Linked DNA regions of Homo sapiens. The protein of the gene in region 1 interacts with the protein of each later gene in a biochemical or structural test. Each region holds a gene or a part of one and is shown in the gene's direction. Other genes may lie near its edges. The genes, in order: ZP2 and ACR.

Evidence for each region.
Region 2: the proteins of ZP2 (region 1) and ACR form a complex in vitro, tested with the Homo sapiens proteins (one study listed by IntAct).

What each region holds. Positions count from the first base shown.
Region 1 is NC_000016.10:21,205,803-21,222,016, reverse strand, and holds the start of ZP2 (zona pellucida sperm-binding protein 2 isoform 1 preproprotein), read left to right. Parts: upstream 1-10,442; 5' UTR 10,443-10,469; coding exon 10,470-10,531; intron 10,532-10,621; coding exon 10,622-10,710; intron 10,711-11,824; coding exon 11,825-11,908; intron 11,909-12,291; coding exon 12,292-12,386; intron 12,387-15,026; coding exon 15,027-15,179; intron 15,180-16,214. UniProt on the Homo sapiens protein: Component of the zona pellucida, an extracellular matrix surrounding oocytes which mediates sperm binding, induction of the acrosome reaction and prevents post-fertilization polyspermy.
Region 2 is NC_000022.11:50,731,294-50,747,609, forward strand, and holds ACR (acrosin precursor), read left to right. Parts: upstream 1-6,910; 5' UTR 6,911-6,942; coding exon 6,943-7,019; intron 7,020-7,977; coding exon 7,978-8,181; intron 8,182-8,400; coding exon 8,401-8,684; intron 8,685-12,767; coding exon 12,768-12,913; intron 12,914-13,359; coding exon 13,360-13,914; 3' UTR 13,915-14,046; downstream 14,047-16,316. UniProt on the Homo sapiens protein: Acrosin is the major protease of mammalian spermatozoa. It is a serine protease of trypsin-like cleavage specificity, it is synthesized in a zymogen form, proacrosin and stored in the acrosome.

The sequences.
Region 1 (16,214 bases):
CCTATTGTCCTGCCACATCCCCCTTTCCGAGATGGTAGAGATAATGATCAATAAATACTAAGGGAACTCAGAGACTGGTGCCGGCATGGTCCTCCGTATGCTGAGCGACGATCCCCTGGGCCCACTTTTCTTTCTCTATACTTTGTCTCTGTGTCTCTTTCTTTTCTTAGTCTCTCATCCCACCCGACAAGAAAACACCCACAGGTTTGGAGGGGCAGGGCACCCCTTCATCCCATAGTGTCATTGCTGTGTGGGCATCTTACACACTCTCTGAACAAGCAGAGTCCTGCCATAGTTAAAAACAGCAGCTTATTTCTTGCTATATCACTGCCCCTTTATATGCAAGCTACTCTAGAAAAACATATATATGTATCTATATGCATGCATAAACATACACATACACATACCACTAATCTCTTACAATATTGACTTCTCTTGGTTCTTGAAACAACCTCAGCATAGGCAAACCCACATACCCATCTAGGATAAAGACAACCAAATGAGTATCCAGGTATTCTCCAACAAGAATCAAACAAGTAGAAGAAAACTGCAGAGCTCGAAGACAAGGCTTTTGAGTTAACCCAATCCAACAAAGACAAAGAAAAACGGATTTTAAAAATGAACAAAGTCTCCAAGAAGTTTGGGAGTATGTTAAATGACCAAACCTAAGAATAATTGGCATTCCTGAGGAAGAAGAGAAATCTAAAAGTTTGAAAAAGATATTTGAGGGAATAATTGAGGAAAACTTCCTTGGCCTTGTTAAAGATCTAGACATCCAAATACAAGAAGCTCAAAGAACACCCAGGAAATTCACCGTAAAAAGATTATCATGTAGGCACATAATGATCAAATTCAAGATGAAGGAAAGAATCTTAAGAGCTGTGAGGCAAAAGCATCAGGTAACCTATAAAGGAAAAACTATCAGATTAACAGCAGATTTCTCAGCAGAAACCCTACAGGCTAGAAGGGATTGGGGTCCTGTCTTTAGCCTTCTTAAACAAAATAATTATCAGCCAAGAATTTGGTATCCAGTGAAACTATGCTTCATAAATGAAGGAAAAACACAGTTTTTTTTCAAACAAATGCTGAGAGAATTTGCCACTACCAAGCCAGCACTACAAGAACTGCTAAAAGTAGCTCAAAATCTTGAAACAAATCTTCAAAATATACCAAAATAGAACCTCCTTAAGGCATTGTCTCACAGGACTTATAAAACAAAAACACAATGAAAAAAAAAACACAAGGTATTCAGGCAAAAACTAACACAACGAATAGAATAGTACTTCACTTCTCAATACTAACACTGAATGTAAATGGACTAAATGCTCTACTTAAAAGATATAGAATGGCAGAATGAATAAGAATTCAGCAACCAAGTATCTGCTGTCTTCAAGAGACTCATCTAACATGTAAGGACTCACATAAACTTAAAGTAAAGGGGTGAAAAAGGACATTCCATGCAAACGGACATCAAAAGTGAGCAGGAATAGCTATTCTTGTATCAGTCAAAACAGACGTTAAAGCAACAACAGTTAAAAAAGACAAAAAGGCAAGGTGTGGTGGCTCATGCCTATAATCCCAGCACTTTGGGAGGCTGGAGGGGGCAGATCACTTGAGGTCAGGAGTTCGAGACCAGCCTGGCCAACATGGTGAAACCCCATCTCTACTAAAAGTACAAAAATTAGCTGGGCGTGGTGGCACATGCCTATAATCCCAGATACTCAGGAGGCTGAGACCGGAGAATCTCTTGAACCTGGAAGACGGAGGTTGCCATGAGCCGAGATCACGCCATTGCACTCCAGCCTGGGCGACAGAGCAAGACTCCATCTCAAAAAAAAAAAAGACTTCTGGGCCTTCTGTCTTCCATATATTGATGCCGCCCTACCTTTATATTTATAGATCGATAAAGCTTTCATCCTAGTTCTTTCTGAATTTATTACTGTCAGAAGGCTCATTCAACTTGGATCTGTCTAAAGGACCCAAGGGGAAAACAACATTAACATTGTATATTAGATTGGTAAAGGAACTACCATATGATGTTCGAGAACATTCTCATTGACATAGTCTATCTTATTTTTCCAAGTTAAATTCATATTTGATATTTGAAAGCTATTTTGAGCTGCATTAGCATAACTGGGAGAAGTTTTTATATTATTTATCTTATACTGCTAAAATTCTAATTAATGTCATCTTGTACTTTTAAAAGACAAGTGAACTGCAAGAGAAGCACAGAGTTTTAAAACACCCCCGCATGCACAGACACACACACACAGCGAGAGAGAGAAAATTGAAATGAATTAGAAAGGGCAGGGAGAGGCATCAGGAGACCTGGTTTCTCACTGGAGCTCTATCTGCTACTAACTTGGTAAATGACCTGGAGCAAGTCACTAAACCTCTTTAGATATTAAACCTCTTAATATCTTCATTTTACCATAGGGAGTTGGACTTTGTTTCAAAGCCTCAAGTTCCGGATCCATTCATTTCGCCTTTTTACCTTTATACTACTGAGTTTTCATCCTTGAGCCTTAGACTCTGTAACTTAGGTAGCTCACTCAGAAATCAGTCAAAATTATTATTAAAAAAAATTTTTTTTTGTCCAGGCACGGTGGCTCACACTTGTAATCCCAGCACTTTGGGAGGCCAAGGCGGATGGATCACCTGAGGTCAAGAGTTCAGGACCAGCCTGGCCAACATGATGAAACCCCATCTCTACTAAAAATACAAAAAGTAGCCAGGTGTGGTGGCACACGCCTGTAGTCCCAGCTGCTGGGGAGGCTGAGTCATAAGAATAGCTTGAACCTGGGAGGCAGAGGTTGCAGGGAGCACAGATGGTACCACTGGACTCCAGCATGGGTGACAGAGTGAGACTCTGTCTCAAAAAACTAAAACTAACTAACTAAATAAATTTTTAAGAGACAGGGTCCTGCCATGCTGTCGAAGGTGGTTTTGAATTCCTGGCCTCAAGTTATCTTCTAGCCTCAGCCTCCCAAAGTGCTGGGATTATAGGCGTGAGCCACCATGCCCAGTCTATAATTATTTAATTGGTTATTTTATCACTAAAACAATTCAACCAAAACAGAGGGAATAAAGTTGTTGGAACCTCACCAATGCACCTTAATGTAGACTTTCTCATTGTCTGAACTAGTACCCTGGGTTCTTTGTCCTACCTCCTAGAAAATTAAGGAACATGGACACAAAGGTGGGTTGGAGTGAAAGTTTAATGAGGGAAAGAGGCCAGGTGTGGTGGCTCACACCTCTAATCCCACCAGTTTGAGAGGCCGAGGTGGGTGGATCACCTGAGGTCAGGAATTTGAGACCAGTCTGGCCAATATGATGAAACCCCATCTCTACTAAAAATACAAAATTAGCCGAGTGTGGTGGGGCATGCCTGTAATCCCAGTTACTTGGGAGGCTGAGGCAGGAGAATCTCTTGAATCCAGGAGGCAGAGTTTGCAGTGACCCGAGATCACACCATTGCACTCCAGCCTGGGCAACAAGAGCGAAACTCCGTCTCAAAAAAGAATAGTAATAAGTGAAAGAAAAAAATTCTCTGCAGCAGAGAGGGGAGTCCAAGTGGATTGCCAGGTTACAGCTGAATTCAAAAGCTTTTTTAAGAAACTCCTCTCTCATCTCTAGCAGTTTGAGTAACTTCTCATCAGTAAAGCTGTCTGTGCAACTCCCGGTATCTTACGCAACTGTGGGCATGTATCTAGGCAAGCACAAAGCCTGCGTCTCTTGTTTTGATAACTGCGGGTTTGTTTTAGGTAAGCCCCCCTCCTCCCTGTGTAAGTTCCCACCATGGATATGTCTGAAAAGGGGAGGAAACTTTTTCCTAGGAGCTCGCTAATTAGACAAAGTTGCTTATCTGTGTGCAGGTGCAGCCTGTTTATCCCAAATGATTTTTCCTTTTCTTCTCCCTCAAAGTCAGAAAGGCAGGAGTTACTTATTCTTTAAGGGCTGAAGGAAGAAAACTCCCACCTTTGCACTCTGAAAGTTCACTGAAAATAAACTGACCAAAGGCAGATGAATAAGAGAAAAATTCATACAAAATTATTAATGTGCAGGGGAAGGTGGGAATCACAGAGTAATTGCCCCTAAACCCTCAGTGGGGCACAGATGCATATATACGGTGGGTTTTCTTTTTTTTTTTTTTTTGAGATGGAGTCTTGCTCTGTTGCCCAGGCTGGAGTGTAGTGGTGCAATCTCGGCTCACTACAGCCTCTGCCCGCCGGGTTCAAGCGATTCTCCTGCCTCAGACTCCTGCGTAGCTGGGATTACAGGCACACACCACCATGCCTGGCTAATTTTTTATATTTTTAGTAGAGACAGGGTTTCGCCATGTTGGCCAGGCTGGTCTCAAACTCCTGACCTCAGGTGATCCACCTGCCTCGGCTTCCCAAAGTGCTGGGATTACAGGTGTGAGCCACCGTGCCTGGCTGTATATACAGTTTTTCATAGGGGAGGGAGGAGATGGGGACTGTAGACAATTCTCTTGAGGGGCAATAATGATTATCAGGGAGAATGAACAGACCAGGGAGAGAGAAATTAACTTGTACATAATTATCTTTGGAATTTGACTGAGCTTCAGAGGCTGACATTATCTTGTGGAAAAGTCTGTCCATGTGTGGTTACATTCCTTAGTCTCCTTTCCTGCTATAGATAATGAGATTTCAGGGAGGGGATAGAAGGCAATAGTGTTTCTTCTGTTAAGAAGCTGCCTTGGCTGGGCCCAGTGGCTCATGCCTGTAATCTCAGCACTTTGGGAGGCCAAGGCAGGTGGATCATTTGAGGTCAGGAGTTTGAGACCAGCCTGACCGTCATGGTGAAACCCTGTCTCTACTAAAAATACAAGAAAAAAAAAATAATTAGCCATGGTTGCTGGCGTGCACCTGTAATCCCAGCTACTTGAGAGGCTGAGGCAGGAGAATCACTTGAACCTGGGAGGTGGAGGTTGCAGTGAGCCCAGATCATGCCATTGCACTCCAGCCTGCGCAACAAGACCAAAGCCCTGCCAAAAAAAAAAAAAAAAAAAAGAAGGAGCTTTCTTTTTTTTTTCCCCAGAGAGAGTTCCTTCCTGTACTTTGGGGGTGGAAAGGGAACAAGGCAAGGATAGAGAGACCTTGATTCTGAGGCTTATTTCTGAAGCCTTTTAATTTTCCAAAGCACTTGGCATGCCCAGGCACATTTGGGGAATTGTTTTCTGTGCTCCAACCCTCCCATCTCCTTAATCCTATTCCCGGTGATGATATTCAATGTATTTAAAACCCATACAGCAAAAGCACGAACAAGTCAGAATAGACAATGGTCGCAAATGCCCAGCACAGCCACGTGGACTCCCCGGACCCTGGCAACCCTCTCCTTTCCTGGATGATGCTGTCGATTCTCTGGGACAACTTTCTTGACTTGTAATCCAAATACATATGTATAGACCCACATGCAGACACATAAAGTATAAATATACACATAAGTTTGAGAAAGAAAAGAAACTTTTTATCTGAAGAATGCAAGTCCCTTTAAATTATCAGGCCCAGAGAGGCATTGAAACGTGACAGCAGTCACACCTCACTCCCTCGGGCTCAGTAATTATCTCTTGGAGCTACTTGATATGTGGGCTCTAGACTGACACCAAGTAGCCATAAAATTAACCTAACTATGCCATACACTGGACATCATAACTCATACCATATGCTGGACGCCATTAATCATACCCTATAGTTCAACAATGTATAGCCAATCACTAATCAGTGTTTTTTTTTTTTTTTTGAGATGGGATCTTGCTATGCTGCCCAGACTGCCTTAAAAGTCCTGGGCTCAAGCTATCCTCCCACCTCAGCCTCCTGAGTCACTGTGACTACAGGTGTGAGCCACTGTACCCAGCTAATCAGTGTTATTTCTGTAAATCAATGAGTCAAGAAACACTGTATCAGCCACTAATCCCAGCACTTTGGGAGGCCAAGGTGGGCGGATCACGAGGTTAGGAGACCATTCTGGCTAACATGGTGAAACCCCGTCTCTACTAAAAATACAAAAAATTAGCCAGGAATGGTGGTGGGCGCCTGTAATCCCAGCACTTTGGGAGGCTGAGGCAGGTGGATCATGAGTTCAGGAGATCAAGACCATCCTGGCTAACACGGTGAAACCCCATCTCTACTAAAAATACAAAAAATTAGCTGGGCGTGGTGGTGGGCGCCTGTAGTCCCAGCTACTCGGGAGGCTGAGGCAGGAGAATAGCGTGAACCTGGGAGGCGGAGCTTGCAGTGAGCTGAGATCGTGCGACTGCACTCCAGTCTGGGCGACAGAGCAAGACTCTGTCTAAAAAAAACAAAAAACAAAACAAAAAAAACACCCACTTGTGACAAAAGTGGAGAACTCACCAAGGCAACTTGGAAGTGTTTCCTGGGCAGCTGTCCACACTTTGCCTCAAGTAAACTCTTTAAAACTATATTCTCTTCTCCTTCCTTTAGGTCGACAGGTTTTTCATTTTCCTATTAAAGCAAAACATGAAAGCATAGTAGATATATAGCCCTGAAATTCCAGTTTTATTGCAGACATCTTTCATGTCAGTACTCACAGATCTGAACGAACTCATAGAATCATTTGCAGTAGCTGAAGAGTATTCCATAGTTTATCCAACCATCTCTAGATGGTGATATTTAGGTTGTCTTTTATAAATACTTTTATAATTGTTGTGGAAAACAAGGGCAGCAGATTCAGAATTTAAGAATTATAAACTGTCATTTATAAGAACCACACTTCAGAAAGGAAGACATCTGCCCAAATGAGGCAACAACAAAACTATAGTCTTTCTTTTATGTATGAGAACCCCGTCAAGAAATGCCTTGTGATTAGCAAGAGAGAAATGGTTTCATGATACATAGAACCCAGGGCAGAGAAGAGGAGAAGGAACACCTTGTAATAATAAATCAGCAAACTTTAAGAGGTTCATTGAAAAGAGTGTGGAACACATATATTTGAACGAGGTCTGCTGTTTGTTTACTGCCTTTTTTTTTTTTTTTTTTTTGAGACAGAGTTTCACTCTTGTTGCCCAGGCTGGAGTGCAGTGGCACAATCTTGGCTCACTGCAACCTCTGCCTCCTGGGTTCAAGCGATTCTCCTGCCTCAGCCTCCCGAGTAGCAGGATTTACAGGTGTGTGCCGCCATGCCCAGCTAATATTTTTGGTAGAGACAGGGTTTCACCATGTTGGCTAGGCTGGTCTCAAACTCCTGACCTCTGGTGATCCACCCGCCTCAGCCTCCCAAAGTGCTGGGATTACAGGCGTGAGCCACTGCACCGGGCCTATTTAGCGCAATATTTTTTTAAATTTAATTTTAATTTCCAGGATACATGTACAGGACATGCAGCTTTGTTACATAGGTAAACGTGTGCCATGGTGGTTTGCTGCACCTATCAACCCATCACCTAGGTATTGAGCCCCGCATGCATTAGCTATTTATCTTGATGCTCTCCCTGCCCCCACCCCCCAACCCCTGTCACCAGGACCCAGTGTGTGATGTTCCCCTCCCTGTGTCCATGTGTTCTCATTGTTCAGCTCCCACTTATAAGTGAGAACAGAATGTTAAGAATCATTTTTGTAATAACTTTAGTTTTTCCTACCTCCTGATAGGAGACACTGTTTTACGGAGCAGCTATTTCTTCCTGTGTTCAAAGTCAGTTGCTGAACAGATGGTAGCTTCCTGCTTTTCCGGAGCAGAATCCTAGACATGGATGCTCCTGGGCCCAGAGCCATTTGTTCGGTGGCTGTCCCCAGCACACCACAGGTCTGGGTTAGGTGAGACAAACAAAATTAATCTCTGGTGCACATACCAGCTTCACCAGCCCACAGCGGGCTTTCTCACCACATCTCCTGCTTGGGGTCTCTGTGCTGCCCCTTAACCTTTTAGAAACCCCAAATTTGGGGGCTCTGACCAAAGCTGCCCTTTCCAAGGCAAAAACTTCCCGCTCTGGAGAAAGACACCATCTCGAGGGGAGTGAGTAGCGCGGTGGGAAGGGAGGTGGGGTCTGAGGGAGGCTGAATAAGCACATTAACCCATCACTTCTCTGACCACCTTCTCAATAGGGCTCTGAGTCTCACGTCTATGCTCCTTTTTCCTCTAATGTCTTATCATAGTCTTAACCATTGTGGCAATAAATTATATTTGTAGAAAAGGTGCCACTTTTCAGAAAAATATGCATAGAAGGAGAAACTATTGCTATCATGCTTTGGCTATAAAATGAAATCCTTTTACCATCTCTATCCCCAAAAACTTATCTGTATTTTGCTCCTTCTTCCCAATTCCGCTGGGATGTAATCTACTCAATTCCCGTAAGGAGGTTAACCACTGGCCACCACAGATTTTCTCGCCTCGCTCCCTCCAAGTATTTTCCAGGTTTTCCTGATTATAAGAATCACCTGTGGTGCTCGTTAAGTAAATATTTCCCAGGCACATCTTCTGGAGAGTCTAATTCAGCAGCTTTTGGGTGGGACCCTGGAATCTGTGATATTAATGAGAGCTCCATGTGATCCTTTTGATCAAGGAAGTCAGGGAAACAGTTAATCTCCAATGTTATTTCAGATGCCTCAGGTTACACCTCAAAGGCAACACATGAATCAATACAGTTTAGGATGATGCAAAAATAATTGCAGTTTTTGCCATTAAAATTAGTGGCAAAGGGCCGGGCACAGTGGCTCACGCCTGTAATCCCAGCACTTTGGGAGGCTGACACGGTTGGATCACTTGAGGCCAGGAGTTCGAGACCAGCCTGGCCAACATGGTGAAACCCTGTCTCTACCAAAAATACAAAAATTAGCTGGGCTTGGTGGTGGGCGCCTGTAATCCCAGCTACCCGGGAGGCTGAGGCAGGAGAATCGCTTGAATCCAGGAGGCAGAGGTTGCAGTGAGCCAAGATTGCGCCACTGCACTCCCACCTGGGCAACAGAGCAAGACTCCATCTCAAATACATACATACATACATAAAAGTAGCGGCAAAAACTGCAATCACTTTTGCACCAGCCTAATAATTGCAAGTGTCACCCACCACTTGAATGGAGTCTAAGCCTTATATCCACCTATTTTGGAACATGGGCTGCAGACATCTAGTTATCTCAAAGAGTGTGAGAGATGTTGAAAAAACACAACCATCAGGCCTCAGGAAATCTGAGTTCTCCACCTGGTCCCTGACATTGTTGGGGCAAGTTGCCTTGCCTCAGTTTCCCCACTGGGAAACTTCCAAGTGCTTTACAACAATATAACATTCTTATTAGATCACTACTCCCTTTTACCCAGAAGTTTTACTTTGAGGAATTTATCTTGAGGGTTACCCAAGGATATGTATCAGAATGCTCATCATGTTACTGCTTATAATGATGAAAAATTACAAGCCACCTTATGCTCATAATTAAGGAAATTATATAAACACAGATTTATCTCAAATTGAATATTATGCCACCCTAAAATGGTAACAGAGAGCTTTATGTTTAATAGTTATAAAGTGACAGTAGCAGATTACAAAACAGTATTTAAACTTTCCTCCCAGTGTTTTAAAAAAATTGTGTGTGGTGTTTGTAGAAACATGTCTAAAGTTACTCACCTAAATATTAGCAGTGGCACTATTATGAGTGACTTTTGCCTTTTCTCTGTATCCTTCTGAAATTGTATCTTTGCGGTAAGCTTAAGCTTTTACACTTGGGGGTCAACAAGGCTTCATTCATTTTTTTAAAGACACTTCCTGTGCATTATCAGGGTAACTTCTGCAGTAGCCAGAAGACTAGATGTTACTTAAAAGGTTTTAGGGTAGGTGCAATGGCTCACGCCTGTAATCCCAGCACTTTGGGAGGCCGAGGCACGTGGATCACCTAGGTCAGGAGTTCGAGACCACCCTGACCAACACGGTGAAACCCAATCTTTACTCAAAATACAAAAATTAGCCAGGTGTGGTGGCGTGCACCTGTAATCCCAGCTACTCAGGAGGCTGAGGCAGGAGAATTGCTTGAACCCAGGAGGCAGAGGTTGCAGTGAGCCGAGATTGCACCAGTGCACTCCAGCCTGGGTGACAGAGTGAAACTGAATCTCAAAAAAAAAAAAAAAATGTAGTGGTGTGAACAAGACTTGTTTTTTTCTCAATAAAGCCCATGATTCTCTTTGGCTCTACATTGCAGTTGTAAATAATTTGCCCAAAAGATCCTAATTTCCCCCATAGTTATAGGGAAAACACCAATTCACTCACCTGGAGCTGATTTCAGCAAACTCTGATTTCATGCCTGGCCCACAGGGCAGCTGGCAGAATACCCGGCGCAAGCTGTCAGGAATCAGAGGCCACTTCCTTCCCCAATCCTTCCGTTTCAGCTGGGAGAATGGGACAAGATTCAGGTGCCCCCAATGGGGAGAGGGTGTGGATGCGGCTGGCTTCCTGCTATAAAAACACAGAGCAGCCTACCCTCTACCTGGTTGATCTGGTAGTGTCTTCTGCTATGGCGTGCAGGCAGAGAGGAGGCTCTTGGAGTCCCTCAGGCTGGTTCAATGCAGGCTGGAGGTGAGTAATTCTGGAAGTGGAGGGAGGGGGTATGGTAGCTTTGTTTGTTAAAGTCCATTCTTCCTTGACTATCTCCCTGTCTCTTTCCAGCACCTACAGGTCGATTTCTCTCTTCTTCGCCCTTGTGACTTCAGGGAACTCCATAGATGTTTCTCAGTTGGTAAATCCTGCCTTTCCAGGTATGTCTCTTGGGTGACAGAAGTCTTCTTAGCAGAGAAAACAGGTTGCAGCTGGAAGGCCTAGCTGGCCAAGAAACACAGGCCTGGCTCAGACAACCTCCATTCACCCCCTTTATTACCTTGGTCAGGTTACTGGATCTTTCTTCTGCTAACCTGTAGACTCACTATACCTGCTAAATGAAAACTCAAACACTTGCACTGCCTTCCAATCCCTCACTGCCTCAAGCTTTATGGTATCCACAGAACAGCAAACCACCACACTAAGCCCTCATCTTTAGGAGCAGCAATCTTCAAACACAAACTCATGCTTAAGGAAAACATCGACATAACAAGCAAAACTGGAGCTGCTCACTTGACGTTCACCTGAGCCAGAGGCTGCAGAGTAGCAGATGATGGGCAAAACTTGATCTTTAAAAAAAAAAAAAAAAATGCAGCCAGGCGCCGGGGCTCACGCCTGTAATCCCAGAACTTTGGGAAGCCAAGGCGGGCAGATCACCTGAGCTCAGGAGTTTGAGACCAGCCTGGCCAATGTGGTGAAACCCCATCTCTACCAAAAATACAAAAACTAGCTGGGTGTGGTGGTGGGCACATGTAATCCCAGCTACTTGGGAGGCTGAGGCAGGAGAATCGCTTGAACCTGGGAGGCGGAGGTTGAGGTGGGTTGAGATCGTGCCACTGCACTCCAGCCTGGGTGACAGAGAGACTCCGTCTCAAAATAAATAAATAAATAAATAAAAGTCCTGGGACTTACCCAGGACTTTGTTTAACATCAATTTGCAAAACCTGTTGACAAAGCTTTTGTCAGTTTTTCGGGCCTGCCTCCATCTGCTCCACTGTCAAGGTGTTGACCTGGCTCCTACAGACCTGCTTGTCAACCCTAACCTGGGCTTCTTACTGGAACACTTCAAAAGCCCTGGGTACCTGATATTTTCCTTACAGTTCTTGGCATATTGTATTGTTGTCTTGGTCACTTGTTTGTGAGCTCTCCCAGGGTAGGGGACGATTCTTGCCTCCCTCATCTGGAATCCCTCCCATCTGAGAGGAGTCTATACACTTTTGTAGGAGTTGCATCACTCATGACTCAAAGCCCCCAAATGCTTCCTTTGCTCCTTAGGCACTGTCACTTGCGATGAAAGGGAAATAACAGTGGAGTTCCCAAGCAGTCCTGGCACCAAGAAATGGCATGCATCTGTGGTGGGTAGGTAACGTGTGTTATCTCCTCATAGTCCTGATTAGCAGACAGCCTTTGGCTTAGGTCAATCCTGTTTGGGGAGCAGAGTACCCAAACTCCTGCAGCAACGGCATCCAACTCCCATGATGCCATGGGGATACCTGATTTGCATGAAGCCACCCAGCATGGAAGACCTGTCTGTCTTCGAAAGTGTGTCTTATGCCAGCATCTCTGGGAAGCCTCTGGCTGCAAGTCATACCATCTCAAAGCTCAAGTTCTATCACTGAGTTGGGGCGGAAGTGAAGGGACTGAAGTACCTTAGAAATGGACTGGTGGTCTTGACTCTATAGCTTTGGACTGTCACTGAAATGTACTCAGCCATCCTGTCTAACCTGCTCTGGCCTTGGCAGATCCTCTTGGTCTCGACATGCCGAACTGCACTTACATCCTGGACCCAGAAAAGCTCACCCTGAGGGCTACCTATGATAACTGTACCAGGAGAGTGGTAAGTCATTGCTTTGAGCAGTTCTTGGGGAAGTACGTAGTAACCTAAGAGTTACTGGCAGTAAACTTGGCTAAGAACTTTCTCTTTGGAGTAAAGCAGTGGCTCTCAACCAAGGGGGTGGTGTCTCGTGTGTGGCTCTTCTTTTCTATTATAATCTGTCTAGGCCAGGTGTGATGGCTCACGCCTATAATCTCTGCACTTTAGGAGGCTGAGACGGGTGGATCACCTGAGGTCAGAAGTTTGAGACCAGCCTGGCCAACATGGTGAAACCCCATCCCTACTAAAAATACAAAAAACTAGCTGGGTGTGGTAGCACACACCTGTAATCCCAGCTACTTGTGAGGCTGAGGCAGGAGAATCGCTTAAACCCAGGGGACAGAGGTTTGCAGTGAGCTGAGATTGCTCCATTGCCCTCCAGCCTGGGCAACAAGAGCAAAACTGTCTGGAGGAGGGTGGGGGGAATCTGTCCAGGGGACATTTGACAACATCTAGAAACATCTTTGGTTATCACAACTGAAGGTAGAAGAGCTACTACTGGCATCTAATGGATACAAGCCAAAGATGCTGGCAGACAACCAACATTACCCAAGTCTCCTCCCCATAACACAGAATTACCAGGACTGAGATGTCAGTGTTGAGGATGAGAAACCCTGGCATTCAAGTACTTGAGCCCTTGAGCCCTGGCTCTACCACTAATCAGGTGTAATTTCCACCAAGTGAGCCCTTTCAAGCCTGTTTGCCCATTAGAAGATGAGAGTAATGGTGCCTGCTCCATGGGGGTAATGAAGACTAATGATGTTCTACAGATTAAGACCTGGTGCAGAACCTGGATACAACAAGTGATGAAACACGAGCTATTTTGATCTGTGAACCCCAACATGAGATGGAAGGCTATTTTGGTGCTAGCAAATAGAAATCTGACCTATAGAAACAGGTGTTAAAAGGCAAACAGCAGCTAAGCAGTAAGGGTTTTTCTATTGCCAAGCAACAGTATTGCCCAATCAGGAATATTAGGAGCAATAAAAGCAACCTGTCTAAGCAGAAGCTAGCAAGTTGTAATTTGGAAAGTTTGGGTTTGACTAGTTGGACATAGGCCTGGGGTGAGTTCTGGGAATCTGCATATCTAACAGTCTATACCATCTGATTACGATGCAGGTGGTCAGCAGTCTAAGCTTTGTACAGATACAGTCTTAGACCCTACTCTGTAAACAGGCTTGAACTGTAAGTCATCTGGTCCCCTAAAGCCCTCTGTGATCAATCAATGAAGTAATCATAGGTCCTTCATGAAAAACCTGATAATTTCCTTCTAAAACAGACCTTCTCAACATTAGAGGTCTTGGAGTCGCATTCCCTTAGACTAAGGGTCTGCAAGCCATAACCTGTGGATGGCCAAACGCAGTCCATGGTCTCTTTCTGAGGCAGGCTTGCTCTGTAGCCCAGGCTGGAAAGTAGTGGCTGCAATCATGGCTCACTGCAGCCTAGAACTGCTGGGCTCAAGGGATTCTCCCGTCTCAGCCTCCCAACTAGTTGGGGCTACAGGCATGCAACACTATGCCTGTCTAATCTTTGTCTTGTCAAAATGGGGATTTCACCATGTTGTCCAGGCTGGCCTCAAACTTCTGGCCTCAAGGGATCCTCCCACCTCAGCCTTCCAAAGCACTGGGATTATAGGCATGAACCACTGTGCCTAGTTCATGGGTTTTTTTTGTGTTTTTGTTTGTTTTTGTTTTGGTTTGGTTTTCAAACTAAGAATGGGTTTTATCTTCTTAATCTTCTTGAGACAGGGTCTTGCTGTTGTCCAGGCTGGCATGCAGTGGCATAATCTCGGCTCACTGCAACCTCTACCTCCCGGACTCAAGCAATCCCCTACCCTATGTCTCAGTACCACCTCAGCCTGCCCAGTAGCTGAGACCACAGGCATATACCACCACACCCAGCTAACTTTTGTGGTGTGTGTGTGTGTGTGTGTGTGTGTGTGTGTGTGTGTGTGTGTGTTTAATATATATATAGAGATGGAGTCTCTCACCATGTTGCACAGGCTGGTCTTGAACTCCTGAGCTCAAGCAGTCAGTCTGCCTCAGCCTCCCAAAGTGCTGGAGTTACAGGCAATGAGCCACCATGCCCAGCTGGCTTTTATCTTTTTAAAGTTCTTTTAAGGAAATATGCTATGGATTTCATGTGGCTCACATGAGTCTAAAACAGTTGCTAATGCATAATGGAAAAAGGTTGGCTGACCCCTGCTTTTAGACTGAGTTTCCTAAGGTCAGGGGTAATAGCAAGGGTAGCTCTACCCAGCACAATGGCAGCTACTTAGGTGCTTAACAAGTATTCAGATAACCTGGGTAGAAGCCCCATACCAACCCCATTCAGCCAGGACCATGGTACTGAGACATAGGGTACACATAAGAGAAATAGAAACTGAACTCCATTTCCTGATGCTAAAACTGGCCTATCAGCATGAGTCTTCACTAACAGATTACAATGGGCTAGCTAGTCTCCTGGTACGGGAATGAGGTACCTTCCAGCACTTGTGGTATTAGTAACTTTAAGGGTTTTCCCACTCAGATGGGTCAGATGGTATTCTAGAATCCCATGGGGGTACAGTACTTACTCTGTTCCCACTGTGCTATCTGTACACAGCATGGTGGACACCAGATGACCATCAGAGTCATGAACAACAGTGCTGCCTTAAGACACGGAGCTGTCATGTATCAGTTCTTCTGTCCAGCTATGCAAGTAGAAGAGACCCAGGGGCTTTCAGCATCTACAATCTGCCAGAAGGATTTCATGTCTGTGAGTGAAACGGGCTGACTGCTCGGGGTATATGGCTACTGCAGGGGGAATATGATGATGATCTAACCAGGGCGGGGCTTAGAAATCAGACCATGATTTAATCCTGTACTTGCTAATTTTCTGTGTGATGAGGTTTAACTTTACCCTGAGGCTTTGTTTCCAAGTCCAAAGTGATGGGACAATAATGCTTACCTCAGGGTGGCTCTAAGAATTTACTGAGGGTATATACATGGTACTTGGCACATCATGCATGGCAATAGGGTTTTATTGGTAGTTGCACTCACACTAATCATCTGACAAATGGAATACATGCCATGTTCCAGGCCCTACCCTAGATGCTAAGATACAATAAGTGAACAAAACGACCCAGTCACATCTTCATGGGTTTAGAGTCTAACATGGCTAATGTCAACAATGGACAACTAAAAATAACACTGACATAAAAGCAACTCAATAACAATGATAGAACTGCATGGCTTTTACATAGTACCTGATTTCTATGGACATTGGTGAAAGGGCAAACGTTTAAGAACATTGTCCTGGTCAGGCATGGTGGCTCATGCCTGTAATCCCAGCAATTTGGGAGGCTGAGGTAGGTGGATCACCTGAGGTCAGGAGTTTGAGACCAGCCTGACCAACATGGTGAAAACCCATCTCTACTAAATACAAAAAACTAGCCGGGTATGGTAGTACATTCCTGTAATCCCAGCTACTTGGGAGGCTGGGGCAGGAGAATCGCTTGAACCCAGGAGACGGAGGTTGCAGGGAGCCGAGATTGCACCATTGCACTCCAGCCTGGGCGATGAGCGAAACTCTATCTTGGGGGGAGAAATGTGTCCCAACTTACAACTGGAAAGGAGCTTAGATCTTCCAGCTGCCTCTTGGGATCAGAAGTTCAAAGAAGTATAATGACATCTAAGGGCACAGTCAGGGTTCATGTGCTTCTTCCACTGCATCCCACAGCAGGCCTTTTGGTATGACAACCACACAGCAATTTCTGGCATGAATTCGGAAACATCTACCTCCAAATCAAAG
Region 2 (16,316 bases), on another chromosome or scaffold:
GCAGCTGGACGGCAGCTGACGCCCCACCCCCACTCCCGCCCCGGCCGTGCCCTGCCGGCAGGGCCCCCCACCCCCACCCCGGGCCGCGGGCTCGGCCTGCCCCTTACGACGGCGCCCGGGCCAGGAATGTTGCATGAATCGTCCTGTTTGCTGTTGCTCGGAGACTCGCCCTGTACATTGCTTAGTGCCCTCACCGGCCGCCCAGCCCACCCAGCGCACAGTCAGGAAGGGCGTGGACCAGGGAGGCTGGGGCGGGAGGTGCCGGGGGTGGGGTGCCCTAGCGTGACCACCTCCTTCGCAGCTCCTGGTGGCCATTCTCCCAGAGGGGGAACCTAGTCCAGCATGCGAGGTCAGGACCCGCCTTGGTGACTCGGGGGGAGGGGGGAGACATTGGGATTCTCGATGGGGGCCAAGGAGCCCCCCTGTTTTGCATATTTTAATCCACTCTATATTTGGAACGAGAAAAGGAACAAATATCTCTGTCCGTAATAGTTTCCTCTCCCCTCCCTTCTACTTCCACTGGTCCCACTGCAGCTGCCCAGTCTTCCATCTCCGGCCCCTCACTGCCACTGCCACCCCACAACGGGGCAGGGGACGCTCCAGCTGGTCTGGGGTTGGCCAGGGCCCTAGTGGCCCGCCCTGGGGCCCCAGCTCGGCCCCTCGCCTCGCTGAGCTCTAGTGTGCCCCACCGACCCTTCAGGTGCTGCTCGTGGTGGGAGGGGCGGCAGGCCGCGGGTCCTGCTGTGCACCCGCGGGACCAGCCGGCCTGGGAGACCATCGGCCGGGGGGGATGAGGGCAGGGCCCTGCCGCTCCACCGCAGCCATCTTCCTCACAGGGTCTCTCCCCAAGGAGGGGGCTAGCTTGGTCCCCATGCTCTTGGGCAACTACAGCAGAGAAGCCTCCCTGCCTTGGACCCCAAAGTCTCCTGTCCTGCCCTTTATGTGTGTGGGTGAAACTGGGTGCGTCTGAGCACGTGGGAGCCGTGTGTGTGCCTGATTACTGAGTGGCCACCAGGGGCCGCTCTGGACTAGCGCGGGGCCGTGGAGGCGTGCACCGTGTGCATGCGTGGGGTGTACCTGTGAGAGCACCCTGTCTCCTCTTCCAAAGAAAGTCAGAGGCCATCCTGCACCCTGGGTCCAGCTGTTTGCCCAGCCTGTCCTTCCAGAGCCTCACCCAGCCTGAGCGGGGTTCCCTGGTGAATCCCTGCTGCTTGGGGAGGCCCCAAGGGCCCCTTGGAGGCAGCGCCCCCACCTTGGGCTTCTGAGGGCATCATAGGGGGACCCCTAGAGTCAGTTCACCACAGGCCCTGGGGAGAGTCAAAGACCCCCGAGGGTGCCCAGCCCCCCACACTGTGACTCCTCACACTCAGCGATGACCTGTGGGGTGGGGGGCCCTGGGACGTTTTTAAACCTAGGGTTTGGAGTCTGGACTAAGCTCCATCCACGTCACTCACAAGTTTCTGTTTATATTTCTAGCTTTTTTTAATAAAATAAAAAAAAAAAGAAAACAGAAGTTTTCACAACCCAGGGGCCTGGCACGCCGGTCTGTGCCTGCCCGCCCCGCCCTGGCCCACCGGCCCCACTCCCTGGGCACAGAGTCACACCCACTCATCCTTCCGCCAACAGTCCAGGTCACACAGCAGCAGTCACTGTAACAGACTGCCACATACACACTCGGTCTCACACTCACCTGTGGGTTTTGGTTCCGTTCAATTTGGGTTTTTAACTTTACAGGGTCAGTTCCGCTTCACCTCCTTTTGTATGGAGTTCCATCCGGGGGGTTTCACCCCCTGCTCCAGTCCTGAGGCCTCCTGACCCTGACGTTGTGATACGCCCCACAGAGATCTATGTTTCTTATATTATTATTATTGATAATAATTATTATAATATTATTATGTAATAAATTTATAAGAAATGAAGCCATGGCTCAGTTGCCTGCTTGAGGGGATATTTGTGTCTGTCCCTCATACCGGCCACACAAACCTCCTCAGCCTGGACCACATGCACGGGTGACTCCTAGATCCCTATCTTTGACCTCCATGCCTAGGCACCTGGCATCTTCCAGCATCTTCTCCGAGTCTGCTGGAACTCAGCCCATGCCTTCTGCACCGAAAGCTTTTCTCTGTTCACCAACCCACTGAGTAGCACCTCCTAAGCTGGAGGCCACTTGTCCTCCATGACCCCTGCCAGGTTTTAAGCCTAGGGTTTAAGACTTGCTCCCGCCAGCGTCCGGTTGCTTTTAAATTCTGCTGCTCCTGTCTTGGAACCCGCTCGCATCTCTCGCAACTGTCCTACCCCACGGCTGCAGACCAGATTTAGCCCTCACTCCTTCCCTGCTGATTCACTGGTTTTCTGTTTCCATTTCTGCCCTCTGCTGACAAACACCAGCCTGTCTGTAAATGCAGCTGATGGATGGACCCCGTGAGCCAGTCCGGCCCAGCCAGTGCTGCCGTGGCCCTGCCAGCATCCCCTGCTCCCTCCCCATGCACACATGCTGCTCGCCAGTCTCCCCCCACCTCCTGCAATCCCTGAGCCGCTATGACGCTTCAGGGCTCTGTCTCACACATGCCCTCTTCCTTCTGCCTGGATCACCCATCGTTTGCCTGCATCAAGCATACATAGCTTGGAGGCTGATCTCCGGATCCTGTCTTCCAGGACGTTTTCTCTGACCCGCCCTCCCTGGAGTCCCAGTTAGATGTTAGGCTCTGCGTCTGCACGGCCCTGGTGCTATCTCAAATTAGAGCAAGTTGGTGCTTCTCACCTTGGGTTGTCTGCCCAGTTGGATGTGAGGTTTCCTTTTTGCTCCCACCCTGAGCACCAGAGACAAGACATTGTCCTTCAGGAGCGCACAGGCAGTCATGTGAGCAGCCGATAATGTGGCAAAAAAGACACGTCCTGGGTGGCACCTGGTGGGGGTGGCCAGCCAACAGGAGGGACAGAGACCCCTCGCTGAGTGGAAGGAGGTGGTGAGCTATGTCTTGAAGGGCAAACAGTAAGGCAAGTGGGCAAAGGCAATCAAGAGGGAGCCGTGAGAAAGTAGAGGGCACAGGACCCAGCACTGAGGCCAGGGGCTGCAGAGATGTGACGTCCCCGGTGGGGAGGGTTGCTTACAGGAGGGGCAGTGGTTTCAGAGCCTGGACACACTGGGTTGAGGAGGCGCGTGAATATGACAGAATGACAATCGCATACCTTGGCTCTGTGGTTAACCTTAGCCAGGGGTGGGGCCGGTGGCACCGTGGAGAAGTGCCACTAGCCCCAGACTCTGAGTCCCCATGGAGGCCTAGGGCTCCATGTGCAGCCCAGGGAGACCCACCCTCCCGATTCCACACACTCAGGCCCAGAGCGAGTCAGGGGCCCCCTGCTCCCACACTCAGACCCTTGCAGGGCCCCCCTCCTTGACTTCCCGTGCAGCCCTTTCCTTATGATGGCCTCAGTTTCTAATCTGAAAATAAGATGAGGATTAGGAAATGTTGAAAATTTGAAATTGTGTGGCCTCTGCTCTTCCTGTGGGCTGGCACCCCCCAGCCACTCCCAAGACCTGTGGACAACTTTGGGGCAGGGCCAGGACATGGAGGCTGCTTTTGTTTTGTTTTGAGACAAGGTCTCACCCTGTCACCCAGGCTGGAGTGCAGGGGCATGATCGTGGCTCACTGTAGCCTCAACCTCCTGGAATTGAGCGATCCTCCTGCCTCAGCCTCCCAAGTAGCTGGGACTGCAAGCGTGGGCCATCACACCTGACTAATTTTTTTTTTATTTTTTATGAGATGGGGGCCTCATTTTGCTGCCCAGGCTGGTCTAGAACTCCACCCTCCTTAGCCTTTCAAAGTGCTTCGATGACAGGTGTGGGCCACCTTGCCCAGCCTGAGGCTGGTTTTCAAGCTGTCATCAACCATAGCCTCAAAGGGCCTTCGTCCTTCTCCATGGCGCCACCCAGACCCTCACCTGCTTGCTTAAACCACCCCCGAGGCACCTGCTTCCCCTGGGTGAAGACCTGAAACCTACCCCTTTTCGGCCCTCAAGGTTTCACTGCGTCAACCATTCTTACTCCCTCTGGGATCTTCTTGCCTTCCTGGCTGGCTGGACATTGAGGATGGTTGGATAAGGTTTCTGCTCCTCACGGAGGGTGGTGGGGACAGGAATGGAAAAGTAGGGGATTGGGGGCTGGAAGGGATTGGAGATCAGGGTGAGAAAAACTGGGGTGGGAGTTGGATTGCCCAGGTAAATAAGGCATGGGGACAGAAGTGGGCACGGCTGGCGAAGGCAGCGGGTGGTTGGGGTGAGCAGGAGCAGCGAGAATGGCTGGGATGAGCTGGAGGGGTGCCTGGGGGTCAGGGTGGAAGCAGAGAGCAGGGAGGAGTTTGAGGGGAGATGGGGAGCCCCCATCCTGCCCCCTGTGCTGAGCACTCTGCCTCAGCCTGAGCCATGCCCTCGGATGGGACCCCACCCTCTGGCCCCAGACCTGTCACCCATTTCTCCTTCGCTCTTAGAACAGCATGAAGAAGGTCAGACAAAGTCACTCTGAGTTGAGATGTTTGTTGCTTCCATTAGTTTAATGACAAAATTAAATGGGCCGGGCCAGGTACTTTTCCCGCAACCATCACTATAGCCACGGGCAGGCACGATGACTGGCAGCCCCTTCTAGAATCAGAAGTGGGTAAGCTTTGCGGAGTCAAACTGTAATGGTCTTCTAGAATCCAGACACTGACATTGGGTCTTCAGACTTTTTTATTGATACCTCCTAAATATTTGTAAAGAAATAGGTGCTATCCATTAAAAACACCCGAATAATATTTTCTTTAACAGTCAAAACTTTAATCTTCTTCTTTTTTTTTTTTGAGACAGGGTTTCACTCCCATTGCCCAAGCTTGAGTGCAATGGTGCGATCTCGGCTCACTGCAACTTCTGCCTTCTGGGTTCAAATGATTCTCCTGCCTCAGCTTTCTGAGTAGCTGGGATGCAGGTGCCACTGCACCTGGCTAATTTTTGTATTTTTTGTACAGACGGGGTTTTGCCGTGTTGCCCAGGCTGGTCTGGGGCTCCTGAGCTCAAGTGATCTGCCTGCCTCACCCTCTCAAAGTGCTGGGATTACAGGCATGAGCCTCTGCACTTGGGCCCACTTCTTCAATTCTTCTTGCCATTTCTTGAACCATATTTCCAAAGTCTTTTTCTGGTTATTTATGAGACACAACTTGATGCTCAGTTAAAATAAGTGAGGTCCGCTAACACTCAGTAGTGCAGCTGAAACCTATTCACATTCAAGTCACGAAATAGAACTTGTATGCCCTTCAGCTAGAGGAAGTGGGGCTACCTGACATAAAGGTAGAAAAATCCCCTGACACTCGGAGGAGATAAAGTGTCATGACTTAGATAGGGCATATAGGAGATAGGAGGTTTCATGACTCTCAGGTAAGGGAGATGAGACCTCCAGACAACCAGGAAGAGGTGAGAATACCTCCAGACCTCAGGGGGTTGAGATGAGAACTTTGGACACCCAGAATAGAGGAGATCTCATGATACTCTAGCAGAGGAGATGAAAGCTCCATGCCATTTAGACAGGGATATGAGACTATATTCAAGTAGAGGGTAGGACATGCCCTGGCACCCAGATGGGGGCAATGAGATCTCCCAACACTCTGGTATACCGGTGGAGACTTCAGAACATTCATATAGGTAAAATACAACCTCTTGACATTCAGCTGGAAGATGTAAGACCTCTTGATTTTCAGGTAGAGAAAGTGCGACAGGGTGACACTTGGGTGGTGGAGGTGAGAATTCTTAACCTGTAGGTGGAGGCGATGAGGGCCTCTGGCACTGAAGTGGAAAAACAGAGTTGTTATTTCTTTCAAAGAAGGAGGTGATCACTCCCTGATACTGGGTAAGATATACGAGACCTATTGAACATTCATTTGAGGATGTCATAAGTACGACATTCAGTTAGAGAAAATAGATAAATCAAGATCATCTGATAATCTGAAAACTCAACACTCAGGAATAGGAGATGAGATGTCCTGACACTCAGGTTGGAGGCATGGGACCTTCTGACACCCACTTAGATGATGTGCAACCTATTGACCCTCGGGCTGGTTGAGATCTTACATTCAGGTAGAAGAGGTAAGGCTGCCCTCATGCAGGTAAGAGTGTGACCTCCTGACACTTGCAGGCGATGGGAAATGTTTTAACATTCAGGTGTTTGCAATAAGCATTTGTCACACTCTGGTAGGTGAGATGCTAGTTCCTGATGATCAGATGGGAAAAATGATGCTTCATGATATTCAGGTAGCTGTATGAAAACTCTTGACATTCAAGTATAGGAGAAAACACCTTGCTCCACCTCAGTCACAGAAAGCCGATCTGGAGACATTCAGGATAATAGGAGACCTTGTGATATTCAGCAACGGACAGGAAGGTGGGCTTTGCAGTTGTAAATTAGGAAAATTCAAAATGACTCTTGGAAAAGTGTGTTGATAGCATTCACTTGGAAGAGGAAAAGAAAACTTCCCCAACAACAATTAAGGATCAATTAATCTGCTGACCCTGACTCCTCTGATCCACAAACATGTTGCACCGTCTCATCACTGAAGGGCTGAGCCGCTCCTCAGTCTGTGAGTCTGCAGTGGTCACAGCACGCATGAGAGGCAGACTCTGAACCTGCACAAAGCCAGAGCCTTGGGTGATGTGGGGACCTCGCAAGAGTTACTGGGAATGGAGATCCTGGCCTTGGGACAGAGGGAGTGGGGCTGCACAGGAGTCCCCCATCATCCTGGTGGTGGGGGAGCCTATGCAGGAAGTCAAGAAGTCTCTTCAGCACAAACCAGTTAAGGCGAGGGGCTCTTACCTGGCCTGACTGCTGGGGGTGGGGTGGGGGTCACCCCTGCTGATTGGCCAGGCAGCCACGGAGCTTTGTGAGGTCACTAGGCTTGCAGGCCAGGCAGTGCCAGGAGTATGGTTGAGATGCTACCAACTGCCATTCTGCTGGTCTTGGCAGTGTCCGTGGTTGCTAAAGATAACGCCACGTGTGAGTAAGTGTCGGGGCACCTTGGTGGGGGAAGGATCTTCTGAGGAGCAGGTACCACCCCGACTCCCTCTGTCCAGGGCTAGGGAAAAGGAGGCTGCATCCCTAACCTGGACCCCCCCTGCTCCCAGAATCAGCAGCCTGGAGCCCCCAGACCCTCAGCTTTCGTGGTTTCCTCCAGAGATGGACCCCTCAGCACCTCAGGCTCCTTGTGCCTCTCCCACTCCCCCAGGGACTGACCCCACTGTCTTGAAGACATGAAGTCCTGATTTTGGGAGCCCTTATCCCCCCACAGACAGCTGTCCCAACCCGTGGTTGCCCCCAACAGCCCCAGGATATCATCGCTTCACACCGCTTGCACCCCTACCCCCCAGTAGGCTCTCTCACTCCAAGGTACCCCGAAATACCAACACCTCCCAAGCTATATGTGGCCTCCCACCCGTGACACAGTTCCCAGAGCCTCCACCTCTAGACCTCCACTGCTCTCAGTGTGCCCCCTACACCTGTGGGCCACAGTATCTGCCCCTGGCTGCTATCCCTCCTCCCATCACTGTCAACGACCCCCTTCATCACCTGACTTCCCTGAGTCTCCCACCCAAGATTGGTTATAAGGACCTCAGGCCATTACACCCCTCTGTCCCCAGGCCCCGCATCCCCACCTCTACCCTCCTGTTCTGCCCAGGGACGGGCCATCCCTCAGGGCCCATGCAGCCTGTCCTGGCTTCCTATGGCCTCCTCTTTCTCCATCTGTGACTGCACCCACAAGACCTGAGAAGTCGTGGCCCCAGAACCATTTCCTAGAGCCTGCGGCTTCCTACATAGCGCAGGCTGCCCCTGCTTTCCCAGAACCCGGAAGCTCTTCCCCACTTTTCCCAACCCCATGTCCCTGCCTCCCCTCAGTTGTGGAGTTACAAGGACAGGCTGTGCTCATGCCAGGTTTGAACTGTGCTCTGGTCTCTCCCCAGTGGCCCCTGTGGGTTACGGTTCAGGCAAAACCCACAGGGTGGTGTCCGCATCGTCGGCGGGAAGGCTGCACAGCATGGGGCCTGGCCCTGGATGGTCAGCCTCCAGATCTTCACGTACAACAGCCACAGGTACCACACATGTGGAGGCAGCTTGCTGAATTCACGATGGGTGCTCACTGCTGCTCACTGCTTCGTCGGCAAAAAGTACGTGTAGGGATGCACTGAGGGAGGTCTTCAGAACGGCTCTTCTCAGAGAGGGGCGTTCCCCGGGGATGCTGTGCAGCGTCTCCCTGGGGCTCTGGGCCAAGTGGCTGCAAGACTCCGGGGGCTGGTCCAGACCTTTGCTAGGGGAAGGCCCTGAGGGTCGCTGTCACCAGGCTTTTGTCCAGCCGGTTGTGACCTGGCTTACCTTTGTGCCCACAGTAATGTGCATGACTGGAGACTGGTTTTCGGAGCAAAGGAAATTACATATGGGAACAATAAACCAGTAAAGGCGCCTCTGCAAGAGAGATATGTGGAGAAAATCATCATTCATGAAAAATACAACTCTGCGACAGAGGGAAATGACATTGCCCTCGTGGAGATCACCCCTCCCATTTCGTGTGGGCGCTTCATTGGGCCGGGCTGCCTGCCCCACTTTAAGGCAGGCCTCCCCAGAGGCTCCCAGAGCTGCTGGGTGGCCGGCTGGGGATATATAGAAGAGAAAGGTGAGTATGGGAGCGCCTCCAAGGGGGGACGCTGCTGGCCATTCTCCTGGTGGTCTTTGAGGTGCAGCGGTCACTTGTTGACACCCAGCCAGGCTGCTTTCATCCTCCTCACGGCGCTACACGTAGAGCCATCACTGTGGCCTTCCACAGTCCCCTGTGCCAGGTCACGTGATGGGTGACTCGTCTGGCTGTCTACGGGGGGGCTGACAGCAGGTGCAGGCAGAGCGCAGCGTTGCTTAGAATGGGGTTGAGGCTGTGTCTGTATTTGGCACCTGGGGCCCAAGCTGCTGGATCCTGGAAACAAGCAGCAACCCTGAAACAGCCTTTGGAGAAGAGCTCCAGATAAGGTTATGTGGCCGTATGACAGTGCCTTCCACTCTCTGGGCCTTGGTTTCCTCATCTGTAAATGGAGGGGCTGGATCAGATGGTCTCCAAGCTGACCATTTCCTAACACCTGTGATTCCAGGGCCCAGCCTTCCTGCTTCCAGGCTGTCTTTGTCACCATCAGCAGCCACCTCCGGTGCAGTCATAGCACCAAATCTACCCTCTCCATCTGAGTTACTTGACATTTGCTCTGTAGACTGGGAAGGGGACCGGTGGTTGGTGTGGCTTTCTGTGGGTCATAGGCATCCCTGTATTTCAGGCTTCCTGGAGTGTCCGGCAGGTACCTCTCCATTCAAGACGGGTGTAGCTGTCGCTCTAGAGCTCTGTCCATAACCAAGCTGTCTCTCTCTCCCCTGGCTCCCAGAAGATCTCTTGCCCATCCAACACTACCTGATACACTCGACACCAGATGAGTTCTAGAAGAGTAGGGGGAATTTCTTCCGTACCAGACCAGGCTCACGGAGGGCCCCAGGTGTGACCTAGAACAAATTGTCATTACTGACTCCGTGGTCAGAGACGCCCAGACACCTCTCCCTACATACTTAGGCACACTAGAGATACCATTTATCCCAGAAGCAACAGGTGACCCCATTAAATGGCAGCAGTGAGCAGCAAGGTTTTGCCAGCAGGACAAGACCCAGTAGGACTTGATCTCTGCATGTGACCTATACTTCCAGCTTTCCATAAGTGGTGCATCTCAATCTCTTTTTTTCTTGATAATGGATAATGAGGCTTCTTAATTCAAGGCAATTCAGTCATATGAGTCTAAAACGCAGCCTTTTTTGGGTAACAACAACAAAAAGTCAATAATTTGAGGATTCTTCCTTTAACTCTTATTTCCTTCTCTGAGGGCGTGGTCTAAGTTTCTGACAGGTTTGTCACCTCTCCTGTCCCTCAGGGAAGGGAGTCTCATCCCAGCTGTCCTTGTTCTCACTGGCCTCACTTGACACGTGGCCATCCCCTTCTGGCCTGGAGTGACAGCCTCTATTCCAGCTGCCGATACCCATGGCTCTGCCCTGGCCTCTGTCCAGCCCCCTAGCCTGCCATGCTCTGTCCCCTGTCTGATGATGTCCACAGCTCTTGGGGGTCCCTATGTTCCTGGGAGGCTGATCTTAGGGTCCCCACTGCCAACCGTTGCTGTCCTATTCTATTACTCAGACAGATTGTAGTGTCCTAGCTATATCTTGGATGCCATGCAAAACCTTTTTTGTTCTGGAATTCCCATAAACCTAATAGGATCACTCTGTTTCTGTTTGGGGTTTTTTTGTTTTTCATTTTTGCAAACACATCCTGTACCCATAAGCCCAAGTCTTAAAGAAACCCCCAGGCTCCAACTCCTGTGATCCCTTCAAACCTTCCATGTCTTACCACCTCCTTCAACTCATCTGCTTTGGGGCTGGAAGGGTATTGCTTGGGTATTGCTTCTTTCCCATTGGGTTTTGAGTCCCTGCAGACTTTTAAGCATTTGTTATTTAAAGCCCAGGTGTCGGCTGGGTGCAGTTGCTCATTCCTGTAATTTACCCAGCACTTTGGGAGGCCGAGGCAGGTGGATCACCTGAGGTCAGGAGTTTGAGACCAGCCTGGCCAACATGGTGAAACCCAATCTCTACTAAAAATATAAAACATTAGCAGGGTGTGGTGGTGGATGCCTGTTGTCCCAGCTACTCGGGAGGCTGAGGCAGGAGAATCACTTGAACCCGGGAGGTGAAGGTTGCAGTGAGCCAAGATCACGCCACTGCACTCCAGCCTGGGTAACAAGAGCGAAACTTCATCTCAAAAAAAACCCGCCAAGGTGTTGGGATTTAGAAAACCCTTTTCTGTTTGAGGACACCTGGCTCTTCACAATAAAACCCATGGCTTTCAAGACTATGGGCTCTGCCCTAGACTTAAAAAGTCATCTTGGCCGGGCGCGGTGGCTCACTCCTGTAATCCCAGCACTTTGGGAGGCCAAGGAGGGTGGATCACAAGGTCGTGAGATCGAGACCATCCTGGCTAACACGGTGAAACCTCATTTCTACTAAAAATACAGAAAATTAGCCGGGCATGGTGGCGGGCGCCTGTAGTCCCAGCTACTCGGGAGGCTGAGGCAGGAGAATGGCGTGAACCCAGGAGGCGGAGCTTGCAGTGAGCCGAGATGGCGCCACCGCACTCCAGCCTGGGCGACAGAGCAAGACTCCGTCTCAAAAAAAAAAAAAAAAAAAATCGTCTTAATGGCTAATAAGCCAGGATTGTTGTCATTGTTGTTTCAATGTCACCCCTACCCCAAGGGCAGTGCATGTACAAAACTCTCACTGCTGCTTGGATGGTAAGAAAAGGTGGGGGCTAAGGGGATTAAAAAACGGAAAGCCAGCGAGCACTCGTTCAGCAGCCGCTTACCAGACGCCTGCTGTGTGCCGAGCCCTATGCACGTCACTCGTGTGTCCCCTGTCTCCCGTCCTGGCCTGTGCAGCTATGTTCTGGGTCTGCCCCTACCTCAGTCTGCTCCCATCTGCTCTGCAGGTGACGTCCAGATCCACCCCCAGGGTTGTAGGTGCTGCTGCGGTGGGGGCCAGAGTGGCTGCTGCTGTTGGGGACCCTTCTGTCTGTGGGACCCCTTGAAAAGGAGCAACGCTGGCGCATGCGCCGTAGCATCGGGTCTTTCTAACCCAAAGGTCACGGTAGAGAGTCCAGCGCTTTCTTTCTTTTTTTGTTTGAGACGGAGTCTCGCTCTGTGGCCCGGGCTGGAGTGCAGTGGCGCCATCTCGGCTCACTGCAAGCTCCGCCTCCCGGGTTCACGCCATTCTCCTGCCTCAGCCTCCCGAGTAGCTGGGACTACAGGCGCCCGCCACCATGCCTGGCTAATTTTTTGTATTTTTAGTAGAGACGGGGTTTCACCGTGTTAGCCAGGATGGTCTCGAACTCCTGACCTCGTGATCCGCCCGCCTCGGCCTCCCAAAGTGCTGGGATGACAGGCGTGAGCCACCGCGCCCAGCCAAGTCCAGGGCTTTCAAGGAAGTCCGCATCGGGGTTGTTTCAACCGCCCCTGCCCCTGCCAGGTCTGCCCGTGTGTGGAGGCGCTGCCCCGAGCTTCCCCTGCGGTCTCCTCGGAACAGATATGCAGCATATGGGGAGGGACTTATTGACCCAGCTGCAGCAGATCCCGTCCGCAGCTGAGCCGAGGAGTTCTGAAGAGGGACAAGAAGCAGGGGGAGTGGCTTACAGCCAGACTGTGGGAGTGGACAGTGTGTCTCAGACTGGAGTCTGGAGAGGAGCAGTCCTGAGGCCAGGCTGCAGCCCCACCACCTCTCTACTGTGACCTGGGTGGGCGGTGCTCCAGCCTTCTGATCCAAAATGGGAATAACGGGACCATGTGACTCAGGGAGTGCTTGGTGCACACTAGGTGTTATTGGTAATACTGCAACTAACCTCCATAATCCATCGTTAATACGCACACCCACCCCCCATCCACCTGTCCACGGGCCTCCACCCTTCCTTCCTCTCTTCCTCTCTCCTCTGGCCTTGATTTGGATAACATTTCCCCACCTCCTCCCACCACCTCTAGTCTGCTCTTTCTGGTGTATAAGGAGGGGTCGGGGCATCGACTGGATGGGTCTGAGGTTTAACTGGAGCATCACAGAGGATGGGGTTCGGTGGGGCAAGGAGGCAGGGCTTTTGTCCGTGTCTCCCGTGATCACTGACCACCGAGTGGTCTGACTATAGCCCCCAGGCCATCATCTATACTGATGGAGGCACGTGTGGATCTCATCGACCTGGACTTGTGTAACTCGACCCAGTGGTACAATGGGCGCGTTCAGCCAACCAATGTGTGCGCGGGGTATCCTGTAGGCAAGATCGACACCTGCCAGGTAACCTTCCTTCTGGCTTCTGGGCCCCTGGGTCCCTCCAGGACTCTCCCGGCCCCTGAGAACATCCTCCTTTTGGATCCCCAAGCTCCACTATCTCCACTGCTCTGCCCAGGGCCCTTCTCTAGTGACTGCTTCCCCGGTCCCTTTTCTAGCACCTACTCTCACAGTGGGGATGAGCGGTGACAGCCACCGGCTGCCCCTGCCATGTGCCCCTGTGGACACGTGGGTTTGCTCATCTCACTGCAAGGAAAGCCCTGACAATTCACACCCTCCTCACATCCCAAATGAAGCCCCTGACACCCCCTCAAACTTTACTACAACCACTTGTGTTTACAGCAGCAGGAGACCATGTCACTGTGGAAATTGTCCTCCCAGAGCCTTCCGACCCCTCTGGGCAGGGGAAGAGTGGCTCAGGCAGATAGTGACCTCTGTGTCCTTCTGGACAGGGAGACAGCGGCGGGCCTCTCATGTGCAAAGACAGCAAGGAAAGCGCCTATGTGGTCGTGGGAATCACAAGCTGGGGGGTAGGCTGTGCCCGTGCCAAGCGCCCCGGAATCTACACGGCCACCTGGCCCTATCTGAACTGGATCGCCTCCAAGATTGGTTCTAACGCTTTGCGTATGATTCAATCGGCCACCCCTCCACCTCCCACCACTCGACCGCCCCCGATTCGACCCCCCTTCTCCCACCCTATCTCTGCTCACCTTCCTTGGTATTTCCAACCGCCCCCTCGACCACTTCCACCCCGACCACCGGCAGCCCAGCCCCGACCCCCACCTTCACCCCCGCCCCCACCCCCACCTCCAGCCTCACCTTTACCCCCACCCCCACCCCCACCCCCACCTACACCCTCATCTACCACAAAACTTCCCCAAGGACTTTCTTTTGCCAAGCGCCTACAGCAGCTCATAGAGGTCTTGAAGGGGAAGACCTATTCCGACGGAAAGAACCATTATGACATGGAGACCACAGAGCTCCCAGAACTGACCTCGACCTCCTGATCTGACCTGGTTCTCAACAGACCCAGTGAGCCCTTCACTCCTGAGAAAAAGGAAAGATGAAATAAATAAATAAACATATATATATAGATATACACACACACATATCTGTATGTATACATGCATATACATCAAGAGATGCTTTCTGGACTTCTTCCTATCCCCCCTCCCAACCCAAATTTCCCCTATAAAATCTACCCTCTCTCCTTCACCCTACAATAAGGCGGAATTGCTTGTACATTAGTGCCAATCGTGTTTTTTAAAATCTTGATTTTTAATGCTGGAATAAGGTGACCTGGGGCCGTAGACCGGGGATGGTCTTTATTTCACACTTAGGGAGAAACGACAAATGGTGAAAATAAAAGAGCCATCTCTGCATGTGCAAGTCAAAGGGGGTGGACCCCCAAAGCAGCAGCTGTGAGTGAGCTGACGGGGAAAGAGGGGGTGTGGGTCCAAGTCTTCTATCAGGAGGCTGGTGGTGTTGACACCCACAGAGAAGATTCTGCATGAAGGTTGAACTCCCCAGAACACAAAGGCTAAGGAGGCCACTAGGCCACCAAAACAAGTGTCTACTACCAAACACAATTTTGCTTGTGGCTTGTTAGTGTCCAGTTGACACCAACAAGCCTGTTCATTACTTGCCTGTAGTTAAATCTTATTAGTTCCTGGATTTGAGCAAATTAAAAAATGTATTCTTTGCTAGAGCTTTCTAGGAATTGCAATGGGGAATACTTTTTGGATGCCCCCGAGTGAGCTTTGAGTGGCTTCCTTAGGATTTGGGGTTATTTATTTTAAGACCTTCCATTGCAAGGAACAGAAACCAGTTAGAGCCATTTAAGTGATAAGGATGCAAAGATGTCACACAGAACCAATAGGAAAGGCCAGAAGCAGACACCAAGAATGGTGAGGAACCCAGGCAAGGCATGACCCTGGTCTGCATAGAGTACCTGCCCCACACTGCCCCATGCTGGGGGCAGCTGTCACCTGGAACTGTTCACATCTATTTGCAAAATCCTGGGGAAGAAATCCTCCAGCCTGACCAATATGGTGAAACTCCATCTCTACTAAAAACACAGAAAAATTAGCCAGGTGAGGTGGCGGTGCCTGTAATCCCAGCTACTCGGGAGGCCGAGGCAGGAGAATCACTTGAACCCGGGAGGCAGAGGTTGCAGTAAGGCGAGATCACGCCACTGCACTCCAGCCTGGGTGATAGAGTGAGACTCCATCTCAAAAAAAAAAAAAAAAAAAAAAGAAGGAAATCCTGATAGGTTCAGGCCAACCGCCCACTCTGATCAGGGAGTAAAAATGCAAAACTTGACTGCTGGTTTAACCCCTTGTGAGACTGAAGATGGCAGGTCTCAGAAAGAGAGAAAACCTTGGCATTTGGCTGAGCAGTCATTGCAACAAGCTTTCACTCATACGTGTGTCCACCTAGCTGCCTGTGTGAGTCAAGCGCAAGGTGGTCCTATGCCCCGGTTACCAAGACAGGTGGCAGAGAGAAGGTGCCATGGCAGGTGGGAGGAACCCTGGCTGAGAAAGCTCAAAGGACCAGTCATTTTCCTGCTGGAGCTGGAACCTGGACTGATGGAGCAGCTGTGAATCTTCATCTTCAAAATTTATTGGTCTACCTGGGTTCAAGCAAATACCCTGCTCTACCCCGCATAAGCTCCGTGCTCTGGGGAAGATGTGCCAGAGGGCTGTGTGACCATGAAATAAGGACAGATGCGGAGTATTAAAGCAGGTCTTGACACACCAGAAATGCCCACGAACGTGGGCTGTCATTCATGGGCCAGCTGGTGGTGACTGCTGGTGCATAATCTTACGCTTATCTGCAGGGGCACTTCGGTGCCTGCCGTTTTCCTCTTATGACCCCTGAAATGCTTTGGCCACATAGGAGGGCTTGCGTATTGAGTCGAATGGCCCATGGCTCTGTAGGATAGTAACAGTTGATCACACTTAAAACATTCTATCTGCCTTGGCTTAAGAGCTGGTGCTGCTGAAGTTGGAGTTGGTAATTCATTTTATTGACTTTTAGGCTCTCTCTCCTAAAGCCAGTTTCTTAATCTCCCTTTGTACTCTGGTGCCAGACACTTGACATTGTCTAAATACTAAGCATACAAAATGCAAGGCCCCGTGCAGAAGCCGTAACAACGGCAGCTTGGGATTCACCCTCAATGACCCTGAGCCAGACACAGAGCCAGGTGGGCCAGCACATGGAAGTATGGGGCAAGTTGTGCTGCGGTCACAAAGGGGTTTTGGACAAGTTGGGGTGGAGCTACAGCAGCAGCAGCTTTTTTCTACCCCAGAGACTTCACTGCTTCTCTTCTGAGCTTTCTGTGATCCAGAGTTGATTTTCTTGGTTCTCTCTCCCCATAAATGCTCCTTGTCCTTAGTTTCTTCTCTCC